Linked DNA regions of Homo sapiens: region 1 is linked to region 2. The links come from fine-mapping of genetic effects on plasma protein levels. A gene starts in region 2. The other region holds a variant in brackets. All regions are shown on one strand. Distances are between the middles of the regions.

Region 1 (2,500 bases), 16 kb before region 2:
GCATGAGCCAGGGCTAAGGAAAGAGGGACTGGTAAGGGGGCTGCTGACGCACCATATCTGGGACCAGGACAGGGGCCCGAGGAGAGTGGTGGGGACACCGGTGGGGCCGGGGGCCTCACCATCACAGAGCAGCTACTGTTGTCCTTGAGACTATCAGGGTGGCCCTCGGCTCTCAGCCCTACACTCTCCTCCGGCTGCAGGGCCCAGACACGGGGCAGTTAGAACAGGGCTCAGCCTCCTCCCCTCAGCCTCTTCCCCTCTTGTCCTCCACCAGCCTCCTCCCTACTTGCCTGTCCCCCAACCCAACAGGTCCATTCTCTCCTGGAAACAAACATCCTCATTTCCCCACTGCGACCACAAACCCACCCTGGAAGCAGAACTGATGGTGGCTTCCCAGAAAAGGCCCTAGGCCAATGCTGAAGGGGGCCTTCTGGAGCAGCCCTAGCAGACCCAAAGCAGCTACACCCTCTCAACTCTACCCCGGCCAACCCCAGCTGTGAGTCAGTGGCTGACCCAGCAGAGAGCTGTGCTCCTGGTCTGCAGAGGGGCCCAGGCACAAGCAGACCCCAATGCGACCACACCCCTGCATGCATACACCCAACCTTGGCACACACCTGGCTCCTGGGGTCCGTGTGATGGGAATGCAGCCTCCGGATGGAGTTCTCCCTGGTCAGGGTCAGCTCCTCCTCACTGGGAAAGACACACCCTTGTCAGGAGCTGAGGGTAGTGGCAGCCTCCCAAGGTGAGCCTATCCTGGCTGAGCCTAGTGAGACAGGCCCGGAGGGTGTGGGTGCCGTGCTGGCCCTGCAAGTGTGAGTGTGTGGCTGCAGGTGGCAGTGAGGCTGAAGAGCATGTGTGTGCTGTGTGCGTGTGCATACTTGGCAACATCCAGGCACATGGATCTGAGCCTCACTAAGGTGGAAGGATTGAGTGCTCCATCTGTGCTCCAGACCCTTAGCTCCTCCTCAGCCCTAGAAACACCCTGCCCACCTCTAGTCTGAAACTCCTCAGTTTTCAGCCTACCCAGTCTCCTCGGTCCTGGCCCACCTCCTGCTATCCTCTTCTTTGTTCTCAGCTTAGTTCTACCCACCCAGGAGTGCCCAGTACTCACTATTTCTGGGTCATCTGCTGGGCCTTGCGCCGATGGTATCGGGACATGAGCACCACCACCACCACCAGAAGGCAGAACAAGAGTGCGGCGATCACACCCACCACCACCACCGAGGCTGACACTAGGTCCACCTGCTTCCCAGAGTCTTCCTGGGGGTCTGCTGGAGACAGGC[C/T]ACTGTCTGAGGTGGAAGCCTGCAGCCACAACCCACCCCAGACCTCACAGCTCCCCCGCAAAACATCTAAAACCACACCTCAGTTTGATTCTCTGCAAGACACACAGCCCAGCCCCCTCTGAATAAACACTTTCCCAATTCACTGTCTCTGTCTTGCTTCCTGCTGCCCCCACCAAGCCCTTGGCCCAGGTCCTTACCAAGGACTTCTGCTCCAGTGCTTACCAAGAACATCCACAGTGACCTGAGAATCCCTTGAGGAGAACTCATTGCTGACATGGCAGACGTAGATGCCGCTGTGCTCAGTGGTCAGTGGGGGAAAGCCCAAAGTGTCCCCATCCACTCGTACCCCACTGGGCAGAGGCCCATCCAGCCTGGAAGACAGGGAAGCTGAAGGGTGCCAGCCGGGAAGGGCTGAAGCCACCACCACCCAACGTGTCCAGACAGCTCTCCACCCTCCACCCCCATGACGTCACCCAGAGCCGCAGGCTGTTCCCACGGTGCCCCTCCCTCCACCAGGCAGGTCTAGGCAGAGGTCCTTTCTCCCTGCTGCCCAGCCTGACCTGGGCACCCCCCACACACACCCGGGGAAGATCCACACGTGTGCCATCCCACATGCTTCCACAGGCATCACGTCATCCAACACTGGGTACCAGGTACACATGTTATAAAGTCCACACAACAGGACACTCCACTCCTAGCTGGGTGTAGAGGTAATTGGAAAATGTGACTGCCTGCTCCAACACCCGTGATGTTGCATGGCAGGATACACAAACATAGCCCCAGGCACAAGGCCACATGCATCGCTCATATGCTCACATGTGAGAACATGCCCATGATGTGCTCACACACATGTGTACCCAACCTCTCCCTGACTCTCTAGATATTTCAGATCTTGGAAAAAGGCCAAGGATGCCTTGAGGGAACTGGAGGTAGTGGGTGTTTTTGAGGTGCTAGCAATATTGTGGTGGTTATAGGAGTGTTGGCTTAACAACAATTAGAAAAAGACACAGCTGTCTTGTCCATTTTATGCACTCACATAAATATATAAAATATTAATATCGAAATATTGTGTTATATTTCACAATTTAAAAGTTAGACAAGGCCGGGCATGGTGGCTCACGCCTATAATTCCAGCACTTTGGGAGGCCGAGGCTGGCGGATCACCCGAGGTCAGCAGTTCGAGACCAGCGTGGTCAACATGGTGAAAGCCCATCTCT
Region 2 (2,996 bases):
CTCACTGTGCACACACACGCACACACACTCTCCTCTACTCTGAAGATTATACATTCCTATAATTCATATTTGCTCTATATGCATTAGACAGACAGGAGGTGAGAAGTAATACAAGGCATCTAGTTAAGAAAATGGGGGAACAGGAGATGAACAAATGGGGACCACACCCTATCTAGAAGGTTCCCTTCCTTAGACCCCCATCCATCTAAACCCCCTTATTACCACCCTGGCACCTAATATTGTGCCCAGGGAAAGGAAGGGGTCAGAGTGACGGGCATTCTCAGCTCTCCTATAGTCCCCAACAGGTGCCCCAGTCCTGGTGCTCTAGAACATCATGGAGAGAAAAGAAGGAAATAGAAATCCCCCATCCACTCTCTGGGCATCAGGCTTCCTGCACCCTGATGACTGCAGAAACCAGCTGAGCTCTGAGTCAGCCCCAGTTCCAGGCAGCCGTTCCAGAGCCCAGGGGGTAGGCCAAGGCACCTCTAGGAAACCCTGGGGTGAACAGGATCCTCACAAGTCCCACCTGCCTGCCCATCTACACTGGGTCACCACGTCTATTCCCCAAGACAGCTCAGGCCTAGGCAAGGCTTTGGCAGAGGTGTCAGGGATCCCAGACATAGTGACCTGGCCTGGGGGCTGGGAGGAAACAAGAAGGGGGAGGGCTATACTGGCTTTTCTGGGGGCACTGCTGGAAGCTGGGGGCAGGAGAGACTGGATCCTCAGTTCAGAGTCAAAGAAAGGAGGATATGTGTGTGCGTGCGTGTGTGTCTATGTGTTTGTGCATGTGTGTCAGTGCCAGGTTGGGCTCAGAAGCAAGTGTCCTGATGGTTCAGGCAAGTCCTACCTGTAAATGATGCCAGCAGTAGCAGCAGCAGCAGCCAGGCCTCAGGCCCCCACATCTCGGCTCCCAGGGACAGGGGCATGGTTGAAAGGCAGACTGCCCAGCGTTTCTGAAGTTCCACCGAGATCTCCCTGGGAGCCGGCTGCAGACTTGAATAAGGAACTGACCCAGAAGGCAGGAAGCTGCAGAGTTCTTGCCTCTCGCACTTGGGTCTCCACTAGGGGACCCAGCCCCAGCCCCGGCCCCGTTCTACACACCCAGCCGTAGCTACCCCCAAGAAGCCGTGATCGGGAGCTCCGAGCTCCCCCAGAGCTGCTTCCCACGCTGTGGCCAACAACGACGGCAGAAACCTGGGAACCTGCTCAGCAGGTCAGAACAGGTGCGTCTCTGGGGGCTGGGCCTGGCACGGAGACTCAGCAGCCACCGCCCCCATGGCCTGGGCTAGCTAATAGGCGCCAGGGAGGGAGGGAAGGAGGGAAGGACCTGGGTGGGGGCGGTGGGGTCCCATCCTCAGCTCCAGGCTTTACCTGCGAGTATGTGGAAGGGGCTATGAAGGGAGAGGCAAGGGTGGGGACTAAGGGAGGCCCAGGGCACCAGGCCAGGCCAGGATGAAAGGGGCAAGGCCCTTGTGGGTAGAAAGGAACCCAAGCGTCCCACACCCCAGCTAGCCTTGGTACCTCCTGGGGGCCTTGACAAGTTCCCGGATCTCCTGGAGGGTCTCAGCTTTGGAGCCACAGAATCGGAGAAGGCCAGAACTGAGGAGGAAGGAGTCTGTCAGTGCTGCGCTGTATACTTCATTCTTCAGAAGAGAAAACCAAGGCCCAGAGAAGGGGAGGGACTTGCCAGAGGACACACAACTTAGTCTCATGGTTTGCTCAGACACCTCTATCCCTGAAGTAGGGAAGTAGTTCAAAGACCCCTGAGAAAGAACTTACGTAACTCCTCTAACTCCACCTCCATATATAAGAGGCCAAGGAAGTGGCCAAGGAATTAGCCGTAGGGGTTCCTGGTTTCCCTATCAGGGCCCTCTCTCAGCTTCAACACCTTGTTACCTGGCCAGGAGTCCCAAAAGCGCAGCAGCACAACTTGAATGGAGAGAGGTTCCTCTCTACCCTCTCCATGGCCATTTTACCCAGTTTACTCCAAGGTCATTGGACAAGACCACATGTCTGGACTTTGCAAGGAGAATCTTAATTTCAAGTACTCTAGCCCTGTATTCCTATAAGTACATCCTTGTCAGACCATGTGTTTCCATTCTGAATGCATAAAAAGTGACCGCCAAATTACACAAAACCTTCCTGGCCTCCCTGGGATAGCCAGAGGAAGAGGGCATATTCTGAGCCCACTGAAAATTTAGTGAACGGGAGGGACAACATCACTTGCAGTCTAGGGCTAATACAAAAACCAGGTAAATACAGAGATAGACGTGGGAGAAGAAAAAAATATAGGTTAAAGTTTTGCCATAGGACCCTTCCATCTGGAGAAGGCAGAAAGGAGGAATAAAGAAGCCATAAGGAAGAGTTGTTCTGTGTAGATTTTCTACCACCACCATCCCCACCAACTCTACCTGTCAAACTCTTATTCATCTTTCAAAGCTGACCTCAAATGCCACATCTTCGTGAAGCCTTCTCTGCTCCTCCCACCCCAAATTAATCTTTCTTCTATTCTTCCTCAGCCTTTGCTAGTCCTTTTATTATAGCTTATGTGCTCATAATTTGTGCACATCTTATCTCCTTAACTAAATTGTAAGCTTCAAGTCAAAAAAACATCGATTGAGGCCTGCTGTGTGCCAGGAATTCAGTAAATGTATTAAATTGCGGGACAGGACAAGAGTTGTAGCCTGTGAACTCCTTGAAAGTTGGGCTTGTTTTATAATCTTGTCTCAGTCTTCCATGCTAGGACAGGCCACAGCATTTCATGGGAACTGACTACATTTTGGTGAAGCCATGAATTTCTGAATAAATGAGTTGTCCGGATGAAAAGGATGGTGAAGTCGGATCAGTAAAGCAGAGATCCCGACTGGCTGTGAGTTACTATCCTGAACTAGGGTTGTGACCTGGACTTTACTCCTGTCACTGGACTATGACCCCAACTCTGGCTCTAGATGCCAAATGACCACGGCAGTGACCTCTTCTTCAGGGGCTATTTCCTG

Which allele goes with the higher level. Alleles are on the strand shown, and positions count from the first base shown. The strength of an association depends on the size of the effect and on how common the allele is.
With allele C in place of T in region 1, the plasma level of the protein whose gene starts at base 1,188 in region 2 is lower (moderate association).

The links. PIP is the chance, under the fine-mapping model, that this variant and not a neighbour inherited with it causes the effect. The UK Biobank Pharma Proteomics Project read protein levels with antibody pairs (Olink). The fine-mapping took linkage between variants from a reference panel, not from the people measured, so its PIPs are less certain.
Region 1: its variant is fine-mapped to the plasma level of the NECTIN4 protein (UK Biobank, PIP above 0.99).

What each region holds. Positions count from the first base shown.
Region 1 is chr1:161,073,106-161,075,605 of GRCh38, forward strand. It overlaps NECTIN4 (nectin cell adhesion molecule 4), which reads right to left. Exons shown (of 9, transcript NM_030916.3): 5 at 1,506-1,654; 6 at 1,112-1,268; 7 at 615-690; 8 at 120-194. Among named protein-coding and RNA genes, the nearest start is that of ARHGAP30, 4.5 kb to the left of the region's middle. RefSeq lists an enhancer at 1,648-2,324. The variant C/T (reference allele first, on the strand shown) is at 1,284.
Region 2 is chr1:161,088,371-161,091,366 of GRCh38, forward strand. It overlaps NECTIN4 (nectin cell adhesion molecule 4), which reads right to left and starts at 1,188. Exons shown (of 9, transcript NM_030916.3): 1 at 848-1,188. The coding sequence starts at 926. NECTIN4-AS1 (NECTIN4 antisense RNA 1) reads left to right here. Exons shown (of 4, transcript NR_183641.1): 4 at 1-2,362.